Linked DNA regions of Homo sapiens: region 1 is reported to be linked to region 2. Evidence: microRNA targets listed by miRTarBase, many of them from high-throughput screens and not tested one by one. Region 2 holds a microRNA gene; the other region holds the end of a gene's coding sequence.

Evidence for each region. Region 2 holds the annotated microRNA hsa-miR-548ap-3p (AAAAACCACAAUUACUUUU, at 1,973-1,991, opposite strand). A microRNA usually pairs through its seed, bases 2 to 8, with sites in the 3' UTR of a target mRNA and lowers its output. Matches are read on the target gene's strand: a 7mer-m8 pairs with bases 2 to 8, a 7mer-A1 pairs with bases 2 to 7 and ends in A, and an 8mer does both.
Region 1: miRTarBase lists CDC6 as a target of hsa-miR-548ap-3p. Seed matches in the 3' UTR shown: 7mer-A1 at 3,818-3,824 and 7mer-m8 at 2,252-2,258.

Annotation. Positions count from the first base shown.
Region 1 is chr17:40,300,985-40,306,369 of GRCh38, reverse strand. CDC6 (cell division cycle 6) reads right to left here. Exons shown (of 12, transcript NM_001254.4): 10 at 5,340-5,385; 11 at 4,762-4,902; 12 at 1,713-4,458. The coding sequence ends at 4,369. Among named protein-coding and RNA genes, the nearest start is that of RARA, 5.5 kb to the left of the region's middle.
Region 2 is chr8:123,344,694-123,350,078 of GRCh38, reverse strand. It overlaps MIR548AA1 (microRNA 548aa-1), which reads right to left and starts at 2,045; the gene lies at 1,949-2,045. ATAD2 (ATPase family AAA domain containing 2) reads left to right here. Exons shown (of 28, transcript NM_014109.4): 14 at 635-794; 15 at 1,806-1,896; 16 at 2,673-2,987; 17 at 3,329-3,461; 18 at 3,807-3,993; 19 at 5,010-5,195. MIR548D1 (microRNA 548d-1) reads left to right here and starts at 1,949; the gene lies at 1,949-2,045.

The DNA of each region.
Region 1 (5,385 bases), not on the chromosome of region 2:
TTATTTGGTTCACTTATCTGTTAAACAACTATTGAGTACCTACCAGGTATTAGGCACTATACTAATTGCTAGGCACAGATACAAATGTAAATAAAATTTCAATCTTGGATCTCTTTTGTCCTCCCTCAGCAGTCAAGGTAACACGTCTCAAGATATTTAAAAAATATATAACCGGCCAGGCATGGTGGCTCAAGCCTCTAATCCCAGCACTTTGGGAGGCCGAGGCGGGCGGATCACGAGGTCAAGAGATCGAGATCATCCTGGCTAACACAGTGAAACCCCATCTTTACTAAAAATACAAAAAAATTAGCCGGGCATGGTGGCGGGTGCCTGTAATCCCAGCTACTCAGGATGAGGCAGGAGAATGGTGTGAACCCGGGAGGCGGAGCTTGCAGTGAACAGAGATCGCGCCACTGCTCCAGCCTGGGTGACAGAGCAAGACACCATCTAAAAAAAAAATATATATATATATATATATAAATAATATGTATATAATATATAATATGTATATTATATATAATATACATTATATATATAAAATATATATAATATGTATATAATATATATATAAAACCTAAATCACATCTTATTCCCAACTTCTCATTCTTATTGGTGTATCTGCTTTCTGTCTTTTATAGAGACAGGGTCTCGCTCTGTCACCCAGGATGTAATGCAGTGGTGTGATCATAGCCCATGCCGAGTTGAACTCCTGGGCTCAAAGCATCCTCCCATCTCAGCTTCCCAAGTAGCTAGGACTACAGGTGCATGCCACCATGCCCAGCTGATTTTTAAGATTTTTTTGGTAGAGAAGGGTAAGGGGGTCTCACTATATTGCCCAAGCTGGTCTCAAGCTCCTGACTTCAAGTAATCCTCCCGCTGCTGCCTCCTCCCAAAGTGTTGGCATTACAGGCATGAGCCACCACACCTGGCTTGATGTATATTCAAAGGGACACTTAGTAAAGGTAGGGAGCAATGCAAAAGAGGGGGCGCAGAGAGAATAAGGCTCTGCCAACTTTTTGATCTCTGGGTAGCTTAGACCTCACACATTTTTTTTTTTTTTTTGAGACAGAGTCTCACTCTGTCACCCAGGCTGGAGTACAGTGGCATGATCTCATCTCACTGCAACCTCCACCTCCCAGGCTCAAGCAATTCTCCTGTCTCAGCCTCCCAAGTAGCTGTGATTATAGGTGTGTACCATGGCACCCAGTGAATTTTTGTACTTTTAGTAGAGACAGGGTTTCGCCATGTTGGCCAGACTGGTCTTGCACTCCTGACCCTTAAGTGATCAGCCCGCCTTGGCCCCACAAAGTGCTGGGATTACAGGCATGAGCCATCACACCCAGCATTTTTTTTTTTCCTTTTTGAGACAGTCTCATTCTGCTGCCCAAGCTGGAGTGCAATGGCACGATCTCGGCTCACTGCAACCTCTGCCTCCCAGGTTGAAGCGATTCTCCTGCCTCAGCCTCCCAGTAGCTGGAATTACAGGAACACACCACAATGCCTGGCTAATTTATTTTAGTAGAGACAGGGTTTCGCCATGTTGGCCAGACTGGTCTCAAACTCCTGACCTCAGGTGATCCGCCCGCCTCGGCCTCCCAAAGTGCTGGATTACAGGCGTGAGCCACCACCCCCAGCCTGGACCTCACACATTCTTGCAGAGTTAGCTAGCCACAGGCAAGTCTCCATTGAGCCAGAAACATCTGTGGCAGCTCTGGGGTTGAAACACACAATTTATTTTGTCTATGCTCTTTCCATGGCAACACCCAACACTCTATGGAAGCTTAATCAGCTTCCTTGGGGTGGGGGAGAGAGATAAACCAGGATATAGACACACACTCCATCACCTTCAAAAGGAAGAATGTAGGTCAGCATCTTTGCCACTACTCTAAGTGAAGCAGCCTATGATCCTGGCAAAAACTGCTAACCACAAGCCCATCCCATCCCATCCCACTAAAACTCCTACCACCTTCCTGAAGCTCTCAGCTTCAGGGAGAAAAGCCAGCAAGGAAAGGGCTTTCTTCCTCAGCAGTCTGAATTACACTTAAGACTTTACTGACAAACATATATCAGCTTTTGCTCCCACAAGGGCAGCAGAAGCCAAGCAGGGACACTAAGTCTGCTTCATGCATCATTGACAGAACCAACCCTGTTCCAACTGCTAAAGTCTTAAGAGCAGCAATGACCTAGAAATTGACAGTGAGGGGAGAAGAAAAGGAAACTAACAAATCAGTAGACAGAAAACTCTATTTCCAAAACCAGGGGAAAGGGAAAGATAGAGGGGAAAGAAATTTGGCCCCTTTGAATCTACCAATGTGATTTTGGCTGGAAGCCAGGGAGGATACATAGCAGCCCCACTGCGAGTCAAGCCATGTTCCTGACTCAAGCCCTACAGTTAAGAGGAAGGCGCCAAGCCTCAAACACAATGAGGTGGGGAGGCTGCTCCTTATTGGGCAGGATCCTACTGTGGACACAGAACAGACAGCAGCTGCCCACAGTGTGGAAACAAACTGTAAAGCAGTCACGTCTCTTAAGGCTGCAGCATCCAATAAAATGTAATTTAAATCAAGCTTCGCATCTGTTCTCAATCCCATTCAGTCTCTGCTTTCCATCAGCCTTCGGACAATCTTTGCAATTATGCATGTTAACCCTTATAGTCCCAGACACTTTCCAACCTTCTAGGTATAGAACTGTGTTTCCATGTTCAAACTACCTTCAGAGGGAACGAATACTCTAGTAAAGGAGTGTGAGAACAACATTCAGACTCATGCCTACAGACTATCATGTGCTACACACACCAGTGGGTAGTGTTCATTTCAGAGGGCTCTCTCTGCTTTCCTTGCCTCTATCCCATACCACCTGTTGTAGCTCAGATCACATTACACGGATACAGTGGTCAGGATGAATGAAACAGTGGCCAACAGATCACTTGTACACATATCAAGTTCCAAATGGAAGGCCATGTCAGAAAGGTAGAGGCGGCAGCAGGAGAGCTCAGGGAAAAGCAGACTTGGTCACTGGCTCTCAGATCATTCGTATCACACATGGTTTACATTTCAAGCATTTGCTTCAGTTATGAAAGGACAGCAATCTCCCAAACAAATCAAACTAGAACTTCCCCCTTTCCCTCAAAACTACCTCAGCCTCAAGCATCCCCTTTCAAAGTAGTCAATGTTATAAGGGTGCCCTCTGGTGTCTCAGTCACAAATTGCCATTTAATGCCACCAAACCAAACCCAGAAGGCTCTTGATTAACCAACCATATGGACTAATTTATCTAATAAGACTGGAAAAATGTGTTTAGATGAAAACCCAACCCCAAAGTAGTCATCTTGAAACAAGTGGCTTCATCTAAGGGCAGCAAAGACTGTGGGACAGCCTAGGAAGGAATTTTCACATTGACTTCTGAAAGCTTGAGCTCTCTTGAAATCTGATTGCTTAAAAAGACAAAGAATGCAACTTGAAAATAAATATATTCACAATCTGTAGAGTTATAGTCTCCTTATGACCCCAACGCCCTTGGGAGTGCCCAAGAAACTCAACGAGTCTAAAATGCCACAATGTTGTAGTATCTGCACCATGAACATAGTATACTATACAAAGAAATAAATTCTTTAACCAGTGTCCTCCAAATCTCCATGTGGACTTGCTTGCATTTTTCTGGATCATTTTCATTCTTCTTACCCTAAACTTAAAGTTCTTAACAAAATACCTTAATGGCTGAGCATGGTGGCTCACGCCTATAATCCCAGCACTTAGGGAGGCCAAGGTGGGCAGATCACTTGAGGGTCAGGAGTTCAAGACCAGCCTGGCCAACATGGTAAAACCCTGTCTCTACTAAAAATTAAAAAATTAGCTGGGCGCGGTGGTGGGCACCTGTAATCCCAGCTACTCGGGAGGCTGAGGCAAGAGAATCACTTCAACCTGGGAAGCGGGTGCTGTAGTGAGCAGAGAACGCGCCATTGCACTCCAGCCTGGGCAACAGGGTGAGACGCGCCTCAAAAACAACAACAACAAAAAAAACAAACAAAAAAATACCCACTCATGTTTGAGCAAACGAAGAGGTAAATATACACACATTCCTCTACACAGATCTGTACACTTGCAAGCACATTGGCTAGAGATACACAAGTGGTAGAAGTAGTGAATGTAATTAAAAAGGGTCTACCTGGTCACTTTTATGGGTAAAAATAGTAAGACCCAAAGATATTATTCTGTGCTAATATTAAAGAATCTATAGATTAAAATTCATTGGCTTCAAGTAAAAAAGGTCATATTTGTTTTCAGGCCCGAATGTGTAAAGCACTAAAATGAAGACTGTAGCTCTCTAAATGCCAGCTGAATACTTTCGGGTGGGGTGTAAGAGAAGAATTTAAGGCAATCCAGTAGCTAAGATATTTCCAATTAAAGCTTTATCTTTCAGAGCATGTTCTATTTCTTTCTCTTCAATCTTGAAAAACACCTGGAAAGAAGAGAAAAGGATTTTTCACACTGGGGAACTCACAAAAGCAAAGTTGTCAGTATACAAACTTCTACCATATTAAACTTTTTCTCACAAAAGGCAAGCAAGTTAAACACTTTTTTTTCCAATGGCTTGAAAAAATATTCATATCACACTCCCATCTTTACACACCTTAAACCTTACCTAACAAAAAACGACTTGTTTAACTAACTGTGGTCATCTTGTTTAACAATAAACCTTTACTTTAGCATCACTCTACAAAATAGGACAATTAAAAACACTGTCACAAAAAAGCAGTTGTACCTTTGTCAAACGGGTTTCCTTGTTTCTCTTTAATCCTAAAATGCCCCTGGCTTCCAAGAGCCCTGAAAGTGACAAACACTCTGACTGGTCCACAGCCGCCACCTGCTGTTTGCGACAGACTTTACTGTAGGCTTCATATAACTGGTAGGAAACAAGGGAGAACAAACGCTGCTTAAAAGTCACATTGCTTATAGCCTTTAATCATTTAAGAAACCTGAGTCTGGGTTTGCAAAAACTTATCTGAATACCCTATTTCTTCCTCTTTTCAATAAAATCTTTGAACAGGCTTCTGTAGATATTCCCGAAAACCTATACAGTAATGTAGGAAAGGGGCTTTATATATTTCCTAGAGAGATGCAGAAATGAAGGGGAGGATAGGGAAAGGATTAATGATAAACTCTCAACCACAATCCAAGGGAAATAGGTGCCTTTTATATAGTACCAGTATTAATTCTTACTGTTAAAATCCATTTTAAATTTATTATCAGCTGAAGTATCATAGGCCTTTTGGAAAATACCTGCTCTGCAAAGCAGATTCTGATCTCTACCTCCGTTCCATCTGCTCCATCCCAACTTACCTTCCCCAGAGTGACCTCTTTGATTTTCAACTGCCTGATCAAGAGC
Region 2 (5,385 bases):
ACTGTGTGTCCTACCTGGTGCTACCAGCACTTTTTTTCTTTTTCTTTTCTTTTTTATTTTTTTGAGACAAGGTCTTGCTCTGTCACCCAGGCTGGAATGCAGTGGTGCAATCTTGGCTCACTACGTACAACCTCAGCTTCCCAAGTAGTAGGACTACAGGCACAGGTCATGTCACCATGCTGGCTAATTTTTTTTTTTTTTTTTAATAGAGATGGGGTTTCCCTATGTTGCCCAGGCTGGTCTCAAACTCCTGGCCTCGAGTACTCTTCCCACCTCAGCCCCCAAGTTCTGGGGTTACAGGCGTGAGCCACCATGCCTTGCCTTTTTTTTCTTTTTGATGTTATATATTGTTTGAGAACTCTTAAGTTCCTTTGTGAAATTATGCTTTATAAAATGTCTTCTAGGATTCATTTGTGGGGGGTCTAACAACCGTCTGTTTTCCATTGATTTCAATTTCTGTGGGCCATTTGGGATGTTATTTTATAGATTTTTTTAATCCATTGGAAATAGTGAGGTGCCCTGAGAAAATTTATTCACATGTAATGCGTTAAATCTTACAAAAGAAGAAATATTACTGAATGATATAGACTGTGTTCATAGTATTAATCTCTTCTCTCTTATTTTTAAAATTTAGTTCTATTGTTTCCACCCTGCTAGCTCTTATGGATGGATTGGACAGCAGAGGGGAAATTGTGGTCATTGGTGCTACGAACAGGCTAGATTCTATAGATCCTGCTTTACGAAGGCCTGGTCGCTTTGATAGAGAATTCCTCTTTAGCCTGCCTGATAAAGAGGTAAGAATTTAATGTCACTCAAATTTTGACAAAATATATTGCTGTTTATTAATAATAAGTCTTGGTATAGTAAAAATTTGGAGATTCTTGAGTTTTGTATCATGGTCTTGTCAAATGATAGTAAACAACTCAAATGGGGACAAATTTTTATTCTTTTCTTTAAATATAATAATGCCTTCCCAAAATTACTCTTAAAATTATTTCAATTTGAGTGTAGCCTTTGGATGTTCTAAGTGTTGCTTCAGAACATATGGCTTAATGAGTAATCAATCCTTAGCCAGTTTGTTAGCCTTGTCTTTTTCATGAATATCATCATATAATCCTACCGAGTTTTTTTAAGTCTACTTAATCTTCTGGGAACCAAAGAGGAAAATATGTCAAGAGCTGTCTGTACTCTTAAAAACAGCTCTTAATATGCACCAGAATGAATAGCTACTTTAGTAGTTACTTTTCTCTTATTTGTGTTTATGACGAATATAACTTTAGTGCTATAAATGCAAATATGTTTAATAATGAGACTTAAGTTCATTAAACTCTTAAAAGTACATCCTTTTTCTTATTTTCACTTTCATATTTTGCTTATATTGAGTTTTTTTGGTTGGTTGTTTATGATAAAGTCTTGCTCTGTCACCCAGGCTGGGGTGCAGTGGCACAATCTCAGCTCACTGCAACTTCCGTCCCCGGGATTCAAGCAATTCTCGTGCCTCAGACTCCCAAGTAGCTGGGATTACAGGCACATGCTACCACGCCCAGCTAATCTTTGTATTTTTAGTAGAGAGTGGTTTTCACCATGTTGGCCAGGCTGGTCTTGAACTTCCAACCTCAAGTGATCCACCTGCCTCGGCCTCCCAAAGTGCTGGGATTACAGGTGTGAGCCACCGCACCCGGCCAGTATTAAGTACTGATCACTTTAAAATTTTAGATAATCAAAAGTATTTTAATCAAAATTAATGTAATCTGAATAGCATTTATTATTATAGTTGTAAAAAATTAAATTGTTTTTATTCATAGGCTCGAAAAGAGATTCTAAAGATTCACACCAGGGATTGGAATCCCAAACCACTGGACACATTTTTAGAAGAGCTAGCAGAAAACTGTGTTGGTAAACATTGTTTTAAGCAGTTAAAATAAATACTACATTTATTTCAAATATGAAACAAGTTATATTAGGTTGGTGCAAAAGTAATTGTGGTTTTTGCCTGTAAAAGTAATGGCAAAAACCACAGTTTCTTTTGCACCAGACTAATAAAGAAATACAAGGTTATATTTGTTTCTTATCTCTTATTTGTGGCATTTTCTTCTCATGAAGTCTTGGTATTAAATAGAGATATTTGACAAATTGGCCATCAGGGGCAGAGTAGATAATAATATAATTGTACAAAATACAATATATTATTATATCATAATAAGATAATAGCTATTCTTTACTGACCATTTTGTAGTCATCCTTTTAAGCATTTTACATATATTATTTCATGTAATTTTCACATCATTCCTGTGATGTAGGTAGCAGTATCTCTACAGATGAAGAAATGGCTGGAGAGCATTATGTGAATCTTCTAAGGTCATACAGCTAGTAAATTACAAACTGGAATGTGAATCTAGTCTGTGTGATTTTAAAACTCTTGCTTTTGACCTCTGTGCTATACTTAGTGCTTGTGTATTGCACTCTTAAAAGTTGATTGATTGTTGATGGCCATTACTACCCTATAAGTTTACTGGGTAAAAGAGATTTTGGTCTTATTACTCTTAAATATTTGCTAACTATATTCCGAGGCTGATTTTTAATTTTTTTTTTAACCATGGTCATGCTAATAGAGTTTTGTGTTTCTTTGTTTGGTCGGCTGGTTCTTTTCTTCCCCTGGTTGCTTTGGATAGGATACTGTGGAGCAGATATTAAATCAATATGTGCTGAAGCTGCTTTATGTGCTTTACGACGACGCTACCCACAGATCTATACCACTAGTGAGAAACTGCAGTTGGATCTCTCTTCAATTAATATCTCAGCTAAGGATTTCGAGGTAGCTATGCAAAAGATGATACCAGCCTCCCAAAGAGCTGTGACATCACCTGGGCAGGCACTGTCCACCGTTGTGAAACCACTCCTGCAAAACACTGTTGACAAGATTTTAGAAGCCCTGCAGAGAGTATTTCCACATGCAGAATTCAGAACAAATAAAACATTAGACTCAGGTATAAAACTTGATTGACCATTTAAAGTTAGTTTTTATAATCAGTAAAGTGAAATGTTTCATACATACCAGAAATATTTATTTGTAAAAGAATCTCTTGAAAAGAATTTGGTAATGCTTTACCTGGGATATTTGAAGGAAATTTACTCCATGGATTGCCCTTAATTTAACTTATTGTAAGTTTGGGGTGCATTTTTACATTTACTTATTAATTCATATCTACACAAATATTTTTGATTCTTTGAAAAAATTTAATTGAAGTATGCTGACTTGGTAACTGAAGCAATAAAGATTTGCTTTGCAATCCAAAAGTTACTAATGTACAATTTTTTGGTTTTATAGATATTTCTTGTCCTCTGCTAGAAAGTGACTTGGCTTACAGTGATGATGATGTTCCATCAGTTTATGAAAATGGACTTTCTCAGAAATCTTCTCATAAGGCAAAAGACAATTTTAATTTTCTTCATTTGAATAGGTATATTTTTCTTGCAAATCAATGTTTTTTGCATGTGTAAATTTTCTAAAAATAAATGAGATGTGGTTGAAAAAATAAAAAGTGCTAACCAATCTGCTTTTTATTTAAATTAAACTACCAGAAATTTTTTGTTGTTACAGTTGTCACAACAGTAGAAATTACAGTCTATAAAAATATTCCTAAAAACCTTTGGGGGTCAGTTTCCAGAAACTATGTGAACCATGTTATGATTGGTTGGCCTTATTGGCAAGACTTTTTACTTATGAAAGTTTATAGTTGACAATTTAGGGGGAAAATTTAAACTGTTTTTTCTAAAACATAGCTTATTAATCATTTCTCTTTCAGAAATGCTTGTTACCAACCTATGTCTTTTCGACCAAGAATATTGATAGTAGGAGAACCAGGATTTGGGCAAGGTTCTCACTTGGCACCAGCTGTCATTCATGCTTTGGAAAAGTTTACTGTATATACATTAGACATTCCTGTTCTTTTTGGAGTTAGTACTACATCCCCTGAAGAAACATGTGCCCAGGTAATTTGTTGGTGCCCAAGTATAAGACAAAACAGGCTTTCAGAGGCAAAAGCTAAAATTGCCCCATTTTTTTGTATTGTGTTTTTTTGTCTTTCTGATTTGTAACTTTAGGTTTACAAAACAGAGTTATGCATGATTGCTTAGTCATTAAAGAGAATGACTTTAAATCCCACATTCACCCTTAATATCTTTGTGACCTTAGTAAAGTTGTTAGATCTCTCTAATTTTCCCCTTTTGGAAAATGGAGATAATACTACTTACCTCACATGGCTGTTGTGAGAATTAAATGAGTAAAGTACTTAAAATGGTGACTGCTCCTTAGTAAGTACTCAGATATTCTGCAGTTTCTGTTTTTGGTATTTGTATATTAACTTTTTTTTGTTTGTTTTTGGTTTTGGTTTTTTTGAGACGGAGTCTTACTGTGTCACCAGGCTGGAGTGCAGTGGCACGATCCTGGCTCCCTGCAACCTCCGCCTTCCGGGTTCAAGCAATTCTCCTGCCTTAGCCTCCCGAGTAGCTGGGACTACAGGTGCAATGCATGCCGCCACACCCAGCTAATTTTTTTTTTTTTTTTTTTTTGTATTTTAATAGAGACGGGGTTTCACCATGTTGCCCAGGATGGTCTCAAACTCCTGGGCTCAGGCAGTCCACCCGCCTTGGCCTCCCAAAGTGCGTGGATTATAGGCATGAGCCACCGCGCCTGGCTATATTAACATTTTTAAAACATAAAAATATTTTATATTTGTAGTTTTGTTTACTTTTGATTACCACAATAGAAAAATCTTCTAGATTTCTCCAGCTGTTTTCTAGTTGCTTGAAGAAATTATCTTTTTCCAAAAAAATGAAACTTTTAATCCACATTTAAAAATAAGGTTGTGGGATTTTGGAGAAGCATTTTAAAAACTTGAGGACTTTATATGTTACTCCTGGGAGGTTAAACATTGTTTCAGACTAATAGAACTAGCATTATTAACGTGCTGACTCTAACTGAATTTGTTTTGTTCTCTCTCTACTAGGTGATTCGTGAAGCTAAGAGAACAGCACCAAGTATAGTGTATGTTCCTCATATCCACGTGTGGTGGGAAATAGTTGGACCGACACTTAAAGCCACATTTACCACATTATTACAGAATATTCCTTCATTTGCTCCAGTTTTACTACTTGCAACTTCTGACAAACCCCATTCCGCTTTGCCAGAAGAGGTAATTTATGTGGGGCGGTATCATTATACTTTCAAAAAGAGTTGTTTCTACCACAATAATCATAACTTATTGAAAAAATTCAAATGCTGTAGAAGTGAATAAAAGGATAAGTTTTCTTATCAAATATACCATTGGTAACTATTTGGTATATGTGCTCATTGGGCAAGATGGTATATGTATATGTGTATGT